Linked DNA regions of Homo sapiens: region 2 is linked to region 1. Evidence: fine-mapped expression QTL. Tissue or cell type: esophagus mucosa. Region 1 holds a variant in brackets; the other region holds the start of a gene. All regions are shown on one strand. Distances are from middle to middle. Region 1 has its middle 5.7 kb from the start of STAM-DT. Region 2 holds the start of HACD1 (3-hydroxyacyl-CoA dehydratase 1).

The links. PIP is the estimated chance that this variant, and not a neighbour inherited with it, causes the effect.
Region 2: HACD1 starts here. The variant in region 1 is fine-mapped to the expression of HACD1 in esophagus mucosa (GTEx, PIP above 0.99).

What each region holds. Positions count from the first base shown.
Region 1 is chr10:17,636,724-17,639,634 of GRCh38, reverse strand. No RefSeq gene overlaps it. Among named protein-coding and RNA genes, the nearest start is that of STAM-DT, 5.7 kb to the left of the region's middle. The variant T/C (reference allele first, on the strand shown) is at 1,557.
Region 2 is chr10:17,616,097-17,619,007 of GRCh38, reverse strand. It overlaps HACD1 (3-hydroxyacyl-CoA dehydratase 1), which reads left to right and starts at 1,634. Exons shown (of 7, transcript NM_014241.4): 1 at 1,634-1,925. The coding sequence starts at 1,669. RefSeq lists a silencer at 1,434-2,093.

The DNA of each region.
Region 1 (2,911 bases):
TCGGGAGTTCAAAACCAGCCTGACCAACATGGAGAAACCCTGTCTCTACTAAAAATACAAAATTAGCTGGGCATGGTGGCGCATACCTGTAATCTCAGCTACTCAGGAGGCTGAGGCAGGAGAATCGCTTGAACACGGGAGGTGGAGGTTGCAGTGAGCCGAGATCACACCATTGCCCTCCAGCCTGGGCAACAAGAGCGAAACTCCATCTCAAAAAAAAAAAAAAAAAAAATTAAGCACTGCAAATTGCAAATTTAGCATCTTAGGGCAACAACAATCATTTCTTCTGCTTACAAACAGAAATTTGGTTAGAACTTAGCCAGGACCACACAGTCTCAGCGGTGGTAGCTCAGAGGCTGGAATCACTACAGCCAGGGCTACAGTCATTTCAAAGTTTGCTCAGTTATATGTCTGGCAGTTGGTCCTAGCAGTTGACTGAGTCATTGGGGTTACCAACCAGAACAACTACATGGGAGCTCCTATGTATCTGCTTGGTTCCTCTCAGTGTGTTGGATGGGCATACAACTGAGTATTGCAAGAGCCGGGAAACTGCCAGTTTCTTAAGACCTGGGCTAGGAAATAAGCACAGCATCATTTCAGTCATGTTCTTTTGGACAGGCAGTCACAGCATCTACACTTAAGGGAAGAGGAAATAAAATTTACCTCTTGGTGGAAAGAGTGTCAAAGAATTTTGGGGTCATACTTAAAAGCTACCACAATATTGTAACTTTTTAATTGTATAAGCATTAGTCTGAATCATTTTTCCCTGTTTCTGGGCTCTTCACGGTAGATATTCCATAAATGTTTGTTAAATGCAGTAAATAAATAAAATTTATTATGATTAAAATGGCAAACCTCCATTACTGGCCATGAGAGAGTAACAGGATCCAGACTTACCTTTTTACAATAAGCAAATAAGACACTGGACAAAATATATGGAATGATTTCAAACATGGGAAAACAGGCAGCACTGGACTATGATTTCAAGAAGAAAGGAAGCATATGCAGTGAGCCCAATGATTACAATAGCGTTCTGCCTGGAATCAGTTTCTAGGCTGTGGCACAGGGAGGTGGAGCCCCAAAAGAACCCAAAGGTGTTATTGCATTGAAGAGACAAAAATCAAAGTTTGAGGAGGCCAAGAGACTAGAATTTGGAGGGCAATATATTAGGAGGGTGCTATGCAGGGAAGAGCTTCAGAAATCTGCACAAGGGGCCGGGTGTGGTGGCTCACGCCTGTAATCCCAGCACTTTGGGAGGCTGAGGCGGGTGGATTGCCTGAGGTCAGGAGTTGGAGACCAGCCTGGCCAACATAGTGAAACCCCGTCTCTACTAAAAATGAAATAAATTAGCTGGGCGTGGTCGCAGGTGCCTGTCATCCCAGCTACTTGGGAGGCTGAGGCAGGAGAATTGCTTGAACCCGGGAGGCAGAGGTTTAGTGAGCCAAGATCACGCCATTGCACTCCAGCCTAAGCAACAAGAGCGAAACTCCATTTCAAAAAAAAGAAAGAAGTCTGCACAAGTGTTCCCCTTGCGGCTTTGAATGCTAATCTAGTCA[T/C]GGGTACGGTAAAGCTCTACAAGTTTGGGCAAAGCACTTTTAGGCAAAGACCTACTACCAGGGAAGCAAAATCTGAAAAATCCCAAGAGTTCATACAAGTCAGGGAATCATTTCAGTTCTCAAAGCCAAAAGGAAGAAAATTACTTGAATACACTGAGTGTTAAGTAAATACCCCAAGAGGCTAATGTCTTAGTAGTGGGGAATGGCCTGACATGGAAGTCTACCTCTGCCTTTGCTCTAAAAAAGCTTAAAGAGTAAACTCTTGAAAAGTAAGCTGGGCAACATAAATCAGGGGCAGAACAAAGTATGAAACTCTTAACAGGAATACATATATTTACGGCACTCAAAAATATAAAATTCTTCAATGGCCAGACTCCAATAAAATATTACTGAACACATAAAGGAGTAGGAAAACGTGGCTAATAACCAGTAGGGCAATCAGTCCATGGAAACAGACCCGGAAATTAAAGAGATGATTGAATTAACATAAGAATGTTTAAAGAGTTCTAACTGTGATCAACATGCTCAAGGGCTTACAAAAAGATGAATATAATGGGGAGAGAAATAAAACGCATCAAAAAAGAAGCAAATGGCAATTCTAGAGATTAAAATTACACTATCTGACATAAAACTTCCACTAGATAGAATTAAGGGGAGTTTAGCCGGGCGCGGTGGCTCACGTCTGTAATCCCAACACTTTGGGAGGCCGAGGCGGGTGGATCACGAGGTCAGGAGATCGAGACCATCCTGGCTAACATGGTGAAACCCCATCTCTACTAAAAATAAAAATAAAAATAATTAGCCGGGTGCGGTGGCGGGCACCTGTAGTCCCAGCTACTCAGGAGGCTGAGGCACGAGAATGGCGTGAACCTGGGAGACGGAGCTTGCAGTGAGCCGAGATCGTGCCACTGCACTCCAGCCTGGGCGACAGAGCAAGACTCCATCTCAAAAAAAATAAAAATAAAAATCATTTTAAAAAAAGAATTAATGGGAGTTTAGACACTACAGTAGAAAAAATAAGTGAACCTGAAGACACAGCAACGGAAACTATACAAAATTGAAGCACATAGAAGAGAAAGACTGAAAAATAAAAAATCTCAATGACCTATAGAAAAATATAAAGCAGTATAGCATATGGGTAATTGGAGTTCCATAGAAAGTAATAAAGAGGGGTGGGGAGGGCCGGGTGCGGTGGCTCACGCCTGTAATCCCAGCACTTTGGGAGGCCGAGGCGAGCGGATCACCTGAGGTTGGGAGTTCAATACCAGCCTGACCAACATGGAGAAACCTCGTCTCTACTAAAAATACAAAATTAGCCTGGCATAGTGGCGCATGCCTGTAATCCCAGCTACTCA
Region 2 (2,911 bases), 21 kb after region 1:
GCGATCTCAAATCACTGCAACCTGTGCCTCCTGGGTTCAAGCGATTCTCCTGCCTCAACTCCTGAGTAGCTGGGATTACAGGCGCCCGCCACCATGCCCCGCTAATTTTTGTATTTTTAGTAGAGACGGGGTTTCACCATGTTAGTCAGGCTGGCCTCAAACTCCTGACCTCAAGTGATCTGCCTACCTCGGCCTCCCAAAGTGCTAGGATTACAGGGGTGAGCCACCACACCCAGCCTTCCTTTCCTTTTTTTTTTATTTTTTTGAGACAGAGTCTCACTCTGTCGTCCAGGCTGGAGTGCAACGGGCGATCTCTGCTCACGATTTTTAAAAATTATTTCCACTAAGGAAACTGAGGCATGGATAGGTTACGTTGTCCAAGTTCACACAGCTAATAAAATGGGAGGATTCAGGAATTTGGGGGTTGTATTTCAGTAGGTGCAAGGAATTTCAAAAGGTAATGTCATCAGTTAAGGCAGGAACCGGCCACACTTCTTTAGTGATTCTTCAGTTACTTTAGGCCATCTGGATGTATACGTGCAGGTCACAGGGGATATAATGGCTTAGCTTGGGCTCAGAGGCCTGACACTTGGTAAATAGACACACACACAGACACACAGACACACAGACACACACACACACACACACACACGCTCCGGTAAAATTCACACAAGTGAGGCCGGGTGCGGTGGCTCACGCCTGTAATCCCAGCACTTTGGGAAGCCAAGGCGGGTGGATCACTTGAGGCCAGGAGTTCGGGACCAGCCTGGCAAACGTGGTGAAACCGTCTCTACTAAAAATAACAAAAATTAGCCGGGCGTGGTGGTGCATGACTGTAGTTCCAGCTACTCGGGAGGCTGAGGCAGGAGAATCTCTTGAATCAGGGAGGCGGAGGTTGCAGTGAGCCGAGATCACAACACTGCACTCCAGACTGTAAAAAAAAAAAAAAATAAGAAATGAAAAAGGAAAAAAAAATCACTCAAGTGGGACGGTCTTCTCACTGTTGGAAGACCTGTTGGACTCGCTAGTAAACGGGAAACAGGGCGAAATAGGCGTTTCTTCCCCAGAAGCTCTTAAGAATGAATGAATGTTTGGCCCAGCGCTGTGGCTCAGGCTTGTAATCACAGAACTTTGGAAGGCAGAGGTGGGAAGATTGCTTGAGCTCACGAAATTGCAGTGAGCTATGTTCACGTCACTGCCCTCCAGCCTAGGAGACAGACTGAGACCGCATCTCTAAAAAGAAAAGAATGAGTGGCGGGAAGATCCCGCTCCCTGCCTGCGTATTGAGAAACTGCCTTACAAAAGGCCAGGCAGGGCAGAGCCACGCCAAGTTCAGGTGCGTTCCCTGTGTCCCCACTAAATGCACTCGCAGGGTGCGCATCGCCAGGGCGCAAGGCGTCTGGGCGTCTCTCTATGAAGAGGCGCCCGCAGCTAGCGAGGCGGGTGCACTTTCCTCGGGAGCGGAAACTACAGCGCCGCCTGGAAAGCGTGCCGGGGCTCGCGGGTCCTGGATCCCCAGTGCCAGGGCCAGGCGTTCTGGCCCCCGAGTGGCGCGCGCTCCCAAGGGGCGGGGCGGGGCGGGGGCGTGACGGGCGGTGGCCGGGGGCGTCCGCTCCTCCCCCTCGCGGTCGGTAGAGCTGGCTGCGCCGAGCCCCCTGCGCGCTGCACATGGGGCGCCTGACGGAAGCGGCGGCAGCGGGCAGCGGCTCTCGGGCTGCAGGCTGGGCAGGGTCCCCTCCCACGCTCCTGCCGCTGTCTCCCACGTCCCCCAGGTGCGCGGCCACCATGGCGTCCAGCGACGAGGACGGCACCAACGGCGGCGCCTCGGAGGCCGGCGAGGACCGGGAGGCTCCCGGCGAGCGGAGGCGCCTGGGGGTCTTGGCCACCGCCTGGCTCACCTTCTACGACATCGCCATGACCGCGGGGTACGCGCGCCGCGGGGCACCCTCGGGCCCTCCCCGCGCCGCGGTCCGCGGAGGTTCCGGGTTCAGGGGGCGCGGGCCGGGGTGTAAGGGGCGCGGGGGGTGCGGGCAGCGGCCGTGGGGGAAGGGAGCTGTCGCCGCGGCCACCGCCGGGGTTGAATGGAGCGGGCGGGGGGGCCGGGCCCTGCGCGCCTGGCATTGCCTAATACGGTGCACGGCGGGGCGCTGGCCGGAGGTTAAGTATAGAACCGGGCAGGAATGCGGTGCCGGCCCGCGGGGGAGGTGGCTGCTGCCCCGGCGCCGCTGCCTTCGCTGCTGTTGAAGGAGCGCCCAGCCCTGGCCACTCGATGGTCTCGGGAGCGCAGAGCTTCATGCTGCGATCGCTGGGCAGAGTTTTCGCCCCTGTTAATTTCACCGCGACTTTTTTTTTTTTTTTTTTTTAAAGCACAGCACGTCCTAGAGCTTGTCACTTGGGACGATTTTGAAATAACCACCCCACTTATCCCAGCGTGGAGCTCCTGCCCAGCATCTTTATGGCCTCAGGCTCCGTGGCTGATAAGCTGGACCTTGATTTTTGGCTTTGAGTATGACTTTGCAAGTTAAGGTTACACAATGACTGTCGCTCTTCGCAGAGCTCTCAAAGTGACTTTTGTGTCAACTGCTTCTCAAAACCTGTTGGGAAAATGCTTTTCCATTTCTCAATTGCACTGCCTTTTAAAAAAGTTATTTTCCCATTATCACTCGAAGTATTAACTTATGTAAACGCGAGGAAAAGTTTACTATTTTCTTTTTTTCTTTTTATTATTTATTTATTTATTTTGAGACGGAGTCTCGCTCGGTCTTGGCTGGAGTGCAGTGGCGGGATCTCGGCTCACTACAAGCTCCGCCTCCCGGGTTCATGCCTTTCTTCTGCCTCAGCCTCCCGAGTAGCTGGGACTACAGGCGCCCGCCACCACGCCTGGCTAATTTTTTTGTATTTTTAGTAGAGA